Homo sapiens: one gene and its partner. The protein of the gene in region 1 interacts with the protein of each later gene in a biochemical or structural test. Each region holds a gene or a part of one and is shown in the gene's direction. Other genes may lie near its edges.

Evidence for each region. The genes of interacting proteins can lie anywhere in the genome.
Region 2: the proteins of NET1 (region 1) and SNTG2 interact in a biophysical measurement, tested with the Homo sapiens proteins (one large-scale study listed by IntAct).

What each region holds. Positions count from the first base shown.
Region 1 is NC_000010.11:5,450,557-5,454,056, forward strand, and holds part of NET1 (neuroepithelial cell-transforming gene 1 protein), read left to right. Parts: intron 1-1,273; coding exon 1,274-1,381; intron 1,382-1,801; coding exon 1,802-1,969; intron 1,970-2,268; exon of another isoform or gene 2,269-2,301; coding exon 2,302-2,364; intron 2,365-2,693; coding exon 2,694-2,790; intron 2,791-2,927; coding exon 2,928-3,004; intron 3,005-3,500. UniProt on the Homo sapiens protein: Acts as a guanine nucleotide exchange factor (GEF) for RhoA GTPase. May be involved in activation of the SAPK/JNK pathway Stimulates genotoxic stress-induced RHOB activity in breast cancer cells leading to their cell death.
Region 2 is NC_000002.12:1,261,849-1,265,348, forward strand, and holds part of SNTG2 (gamma-2-syntrophin), read left to right. Parts: intron 1-46; exon of another isoform or gene 47-173; intron 174-487; exon of another isoform or gene 488-570; intron 571-3,500. UniProt on the Homo sapiens protein: Adapter protein that binds to and probably organizes the subcellular localization of a variety of proteins. May link various receptors to the actin cytoskeleton and the dystrophin glycoprotein complex.

The sequences.
Region 1 (3,500 bases):
TTTAGAAAAAGTTGCTTCTTCTGTTATTTTTAAATGATGTCTTATTTTTCAGTGATAATTTTAATATAATTTTAAATTATATATCCTCCTGGATTCTCATCAAAATTATTTTGTCAAGTATGCCACAATTGTCAGAAGCACAAAATACAAATAGTTATGCTCCATAGACATAAAGAATAGACCTGCTAGTTTTATGATCTGGCATTCTTCATTTCAGTAACTGTGTGAGTCACCTACTGGTATGCCTCCATTTTTCTAGCGATAAAATTAGAATAATGCAATTTTTGTAAAGTTTCAAAATCCTTGAATAAGTGATGTGTTTGCTATATTATTATTTAAAAGCAATAACATGTAGAATCATAACTATTTCTTCTCGATTTGTATATATCTTTCCTTTAAGTTAATAAATTACTGTTTGAGAGAGGATCTAATTTATCTATGAATCCCAGTGTTTATGTAGTAAATGGAAATATTCCTAAAATCTGTTAGTAATAGCTCAAACTGAGTATGTGCCAGGCACTGTTTCAAGCCATATTATTCATTTAATCTTCACAACAACTTCATAAGAGAAGTGCTACTTTTAGCCCCATTTTATAGATGAGAAAACTGATGCCAAGGGTGTGCCCTAGCAAGTGGTAGAGCCGGGATTTGTGCCCAGTCAGATTTCAGAGCCTGGGTGCTCTTTTAACTCCTCCCTGCCTTGGCTTCAATATTTTTCAGCCCATTCCAGTGTCAGACATGTTGATTGAAAGGTTGTATTTTCTAACGGAAGTAGTTAAGAATGAAATGATACAATGTCTGAGATTTGCTTTAAAACATTTAAGTAGGGACAAAAATGAAACAAATTGTTATACCAGACACTGTGGAGGCCCCTCGATAGACACATGGGATCCATTATGCCATTCTCCACTTTCATGTATGTTCGAAAATTTTCATAACAATAAGGCTTTTTTTTAAAAAAAAAAAAAGTTATTCCCTGCATTAAACTGAAAAGTTCATTAGATTTTAGGATGTAATTTCCTTGTTTGAATTTTAATTTTTTCCCCTATTGGAAATATTTGACTGGCCTTTCTTACACACTTATTTTTTGAAAAGTTACTGCTACTCAATAGAGTTCTTATTGTTTTGACAATGAAGAACAACTCTTACTTTCATGTTTCTGTATTTTATAATGTACAAAAATTGTTTTGTGAGAGGGCTTTACTTTGTCCAAGTTTGTATGAAATCATTGCACCTAGACATATATTTAGTGTCATCTGGTTTGTTTTTATAGGAGCCAAGCAATAAAAGAGTTCGACCTCTGGCTCGTGTCACGTCCTTGGCAAATTTAATCTCTCCTGTAAGAAATGGAGCTGTCAGACGTTTTGGTCAAACAATACAGGTAAAAAGAGAGGAGGAAGAGTAATGTAGTCAGCGGACTTTATAGAAGCCTGGAATTTGTAGTTGTCTTTGAGCTGTACAAACAAGTTTGCATTATTATATTTAAACATAGTTTTCTTTTTGGAATATGCTAGTAAGGAATATTGTTCCAGAACAATGTGTAGCCTCATTATATTAATTTGCATCTTATATTAATTTGCATCTTATAATGCATAGTCTTGGCTAGTTTTTATTCCCAAAAATGTAATTTTAGCTGATAAATATTTAAGATTGGTAGGTGGAAACTTGGATAAATTATTGTTTTCTGCATTGAGAAATTCTCAGAACTTTGTCTTTCTTCACTTTAAAAAAAAAGAAAATGGGAATAATTCTATTTCTTCCAAATCTTATTTTCTCTTTTGTTCACCTTTTCTTTTTTAAGTCATTTACCCTTCGTGGTGACCACAGATCCCCAGCCTCTGCCCAGAAGTTTTCTAGCAGGTCAACAGTCCCAACACCCGCCAAGAGAAGGAGCAGTGCACTGTGGTCAGAGATGCTGGACATCACCATGAAGGAGTCTCTCACCACCAGGGAGATCAGACGGCAGGAGGTATGCTGGCACTCAGTGTACATGTTTTCCCAAAAGAACAGCAAATTGATGCCGATGGCAAAATTAACTTGGATTTTTGTGTTTGAGCAACAATTCCTAATACATGGTGAACAAAACCTAATGATGGATGGTGGTCAAATTAAACAACTCTAATAGGGTAAACTTACCAAACATACGGCAACCTTGTATTTGAGATTCCATTCTGAATTACAATTTTCAGACTGAGTTACTTTTTAAAATGCCGTTCAAAACATCAAATAATGTAATTATCAGTTGTATATAATTTTCCTTTCTCGAAGGAATGACCTCTGATGTTTGCTGGATGTTTTTAGGCAATATATGAAATGTCCCGAGGTGAACAGGATTTAATTGAGGATCTCAAACTTGCAAGAAAGGTCAGTAAATAACTTTTTATCAGATGCCCTAGTTTTTAAAAATTACATTTCACAAAATCTAAAGGATAGTTTTCTTAACCTTTAGAAGTAGAAGAATAGAAAATATCTACTGGTGAATACATTTTTTTTAGGTGAGGTCTAGACACATCCTCAAATACAAGTATTAGTAAGAGAGTTTATTTGGGGATTAATACATACTAATTTATTTTATGTGTAGCAAACAGAATCCACGCTAGCTTTTATGTAATTAATTCTCTTTGTTTCCAAGTATAGATCCCTCATGTTTTCCTCACATGATCTCTCTGTGACACATTTCTCCCCTCTGACAGGCCTATCATGACCCCATGTTAAAGTTGTCCATCATGTCAGAAGAGGAACTCACACATATATTTGGTGATCTGGACTCTTACATACCTCTGCATGAAGGTTAGATGTGCCACTTAATTGTCATTAAATCTAAAGAGCAGCGGTGCATGTAATTTTCAGTCTAAACTTCTAATGTAGTGCTGACCTATTTTTTAAATAAACCTGTTAATGGTGTTTATGCTTTTTTATCACTTCAGATTTGTTGACAAGAATAGGAGAAGCAACCAAGCCTGATGGAACAGTGGAGCAGATTGGTCACATTCTCGTGAGCTGGGTATGTAGTGAGTTGTTGACCCCAGATACAGTTTCTTACAGATGTGCCATGTTGCAGTTTCTGATGAATATGAGACAGATTTGATCCCACAACTCTGTTCTACAAACACATAAGGCGTTAAAACTGAACAAATTTACAGTGACATAAGAAGTTACAGTCTGTTTAAAAAAAAAAAAAAACACCTTCATTAATGCTATAGGTTCATTTGTGTTACAAATACGTTCCTGCTTGGATAGAATTCCCACATCATGTGTGATTATCCGTTGCATTCTGTCATGTATGTTTAAGCGCATGCCAAATGCGGGGCACTGTTTGAGGAGGAGTCGCTGGGAGTCAGTGATGAAAGGCAGTCTCTGCCTTTATAGCCTAGTGAAGGAATAGCCAAGCACATAAACAGTCTCAGGGCTGGTGGCAAATGGAGGACACTCAAGTGTCCTGGGAGCACAGACTGCCAGTGTCTGAGGTTGGAGGGGAGTAGAAGTCATGAATCTTCACT
Region 2 (3,500 bases), on another chromosome or scaffold:
GACTTTCCAGAAGCCAAGCAGAGACAGGGATGGGGCCCAGACTCACGTGGCTGCAAAGCTCATCCCGAATCCCGCTCTATTCCACGTGCTAGAAGCAGTGGTGTTCCGGGAGCCTGTCGCGAGTGGCCGTTAAGAGTTCTAGAACGTGTTCTCCACGGATCTTCGGGGTAGTCCTGTTTGGATAATATCAACACTGAGAGGAAGAATTCCTAAATGATTTTCCTAAAGCCATGTCAGGACAAAACTGCACCAGAGTTAAAGGCGAAGAAGGCAAGAAGACCTTATTCAAGTCTATTATGATAGGAGAGAGAGAGAGATTCAGAGATTCAACTCCACTGAAACAAAGGATGAGAGGGTTTCTACAAGTTGGGATGGGAAGGAGATTAGGGCCATCATTGTCTGTTAATTGGCCTCCTGCAAAGAAACAGAGAGCTTCCCCCATCTTCATGACAGGAGGTGGTTGCACAGCTTAGAGCCAAGCACCCACCAAGGCTGGGCTCCATCCTTCCACAGGGACAGGAGATGACGCCATCTTGCCAGTGATCACATTTTGAAGGGACAGCTCCCAGCTCCTTGAGAAAGACAGTCCTGGGTTGTACAGCCAGCAAGAGACTTCTAGAAAGATTCAGGTATCAAATGGCAGAGAAAGAACATACAATAATACATTTTCTAAAGCAAATGCTCTAAAGATAGGGAGTTCCAGGTCCCAGAGGTGGGAAGAAGCCGGGTCAAGTCTCAGTCCAGACGAGGAAACCCAAAGGCTCAGTCCAGACGAGGAAACCCAAAGGCTCAGTCCAGACGTAGTAACCGGAAGGCTCAGTCCAGACGAGGCAACCGGAAGGCTCCGTCCAGACGAGGCAACCGGAAGGCTCCGTCCAGACGAGGCAACCGGAAGGCTCCGTGCAGACGAGGCAACCCGAAGGCTCCGTGCAGACGAGGTAACCGGAAGGCTCGGTCCAGACGACGAAACCCGAAGGCTCGGTCCAGACGAGGAAACCCGATGGCCTAGCCAGCCGCTGACTGACTGTTGACGGCAAGCCGCTGACCTTGAACTTCAGTGCTCAGGGTTTCCAGTCGTATCAACACACTGCGATCCACAAGGTCTGAGTGATTGTTTTTAAAGGAGCTACAGGAACTATCTGGGGAAATGAGCTATATATGAATAATTAATTTTCCTTTTGTAGAACTTACAACACATTCTTTGTGAGGCTAAACAGTGGAAAAACAATCCCTTGCTTGATCAAGCAGTCTCACTCCTCAGAATTGAATCTAAAGAAGAGTCCATTACAACACTGAGTTCAGAGGAATCAAAGAGCTATATGTATGAGAATGTTTAAGGATATTCCTTAAATTAATGATATTTGAAGAATAATCAAAAGACCATTGAGAAATATTTTAAAATCTTACAACATATTTTAAGTAATTCTACTATAAATTTATACAGTTATATGTACAAATTCACATTGCATGAAAGAGAATATTAATTATTGTCCTATTATTAAGGTTATATTAATAATTATTGACATATTTTTAAAAATCAGATGACAAAACATAGTAATAAGTTTATCTTTTAAATTCCCTTTATTGTTGCTATAATTGTTTCATAATAAATATAAATAGAAAAAATATGTAATTTTAGAATACAACCCTTTTTGTTTTTTTCAGGAAAGGGAACATAATAAGATGATGTCTTGCAGTCCTAGGTGGGGGGTGGGCTTTCTTCAGTCGTGGGGGTGGCTGGAAATGCTGTTCTGGATATTGCCAGAGCTGACCCTGCCAGGAAGCCAGGTAGCTGCAAAGCAGACATCAAATCGACATGTACGGCCTGGCTCAGCATTGCCTTAGGACGTGTGTCTTTATGAAAGCACGTAGTGAACTCATGTGAATCCGGGATGTGAGCCCTGCATGCTGGCCACTCTGTCATGTGAAGTTATGACAACATTTTTATCACGATTCCATTTCACAGCTCAAAAGTGGAGGCTCTGAGAGAGTGAATTGCTCAAGATCAAACAGCTAATACTGGGCAAAGAAAGGCCTCAAATTTTATCTGACTCCAAAACCTGGTGTTCTTCTATTATAATACACAGCTGCCCAAATATAGCAAGTGATAGGAAAGAAACACAATTGACCTTTGAACAATATGGGCTTGAACTGCGTGGGCTCATTTGTATGCCAATTGTTTTCTATAAGTATGTTGGAAAATTTTTTGAAAACAATTTAACAATTGTAAAAACCTCTTAAGACAAACTGTGTAGCTTAAAAATATCAAAACATTAAGAAAAAGTTAGAGATGTCGTGAATTCATACAATATATGTAGATACTAGTCTATTTCATCATTTACTCCTGTAAAATATAAATCAATCAATTTGGCACCATCTGCAGTGGAGAGGAATATAGACAAAGGTAAAGATGCAGCGTTCAATCATTCCTGCCCATGGTTAACTGGAGCACATAGTGTGACATGGGTTTCTGAGTAAAATGTCTTAATCATCCCTGTGGAAGCAATTTCTCTCTCCAGTAAATTGCAGAGCATGGTAACGAGTGATCTCTCAGAGTTCTTGTGTACCTTCCCTCCTTCGTGTTGAGTCCAGTAACGTAAACCTTGAATAACACCCCGGGACCCACACGAAGTGCCACAAGGGATGTTGCAAGTGCCCCAAGAAGCGGGAATATCACAGCATTGCCAAAAAGCTGAATTGTTTGCTGTGCACCACAGATTGAGGTCTGCAGCGTGGTTGCCACCATTTCAGACCATTCATCTCATAAACAGATGATGTAAACTTATGGTGTCAATAAATACAGTGCAGTGCTCTAAGTATATCTTCTCTTCCCTGTGATTTTCTCAATAACATTCTCTATTCTCTAGCTTACTTTCTTAATTCATTTATTTATTTAGAGATAGGATCTTGCTGTGTCATCCAGGCTGGTCTTAAATTCCTGGGCTCCAGTGATGCCCCTGCCTCAGCCTCCCAATTAGTTGTGATTACAGGTGTAAGCCACTGTGCCTGAATTCACTTATTCTATTCTAAGAATGTAGTATATTATACGTATAACATACAGAATATGTGTTAATTGACTGTTCATGTTATTAGTAAAGCTTCTGATCAACAATAGACTACTAGTAGTTAAGTTTTAGGGGAGTCAAAAGTTATGCATGAATCTTCAACTGCGTGAGAGTTGGCGCCCCTAACCCCTGGGTTGTTCAAGGCCCAACTATAATGAGCCATTCAATGGGGGATGTGCGTTCCCACATAAATATCTTCCAAAAGTTTTTCTTTATCAGTTTTGACATTTAAGTTCAGTGGATAAAGAGATACTTTCTGCACCATAAGGTCAATGATGAACATGTTGTTCTTGGTTTGTGACGTGTAACCCTATAGGTTCCAGGTATCCCAGCTGAAGGAGACGATCCAGAGGGCCCCAGAATTAAAGTGCAGTTTCTGTACTCAAGGCTCATTTAGGGTTAGCAACGTATGCACACTACACACATTCACGTACA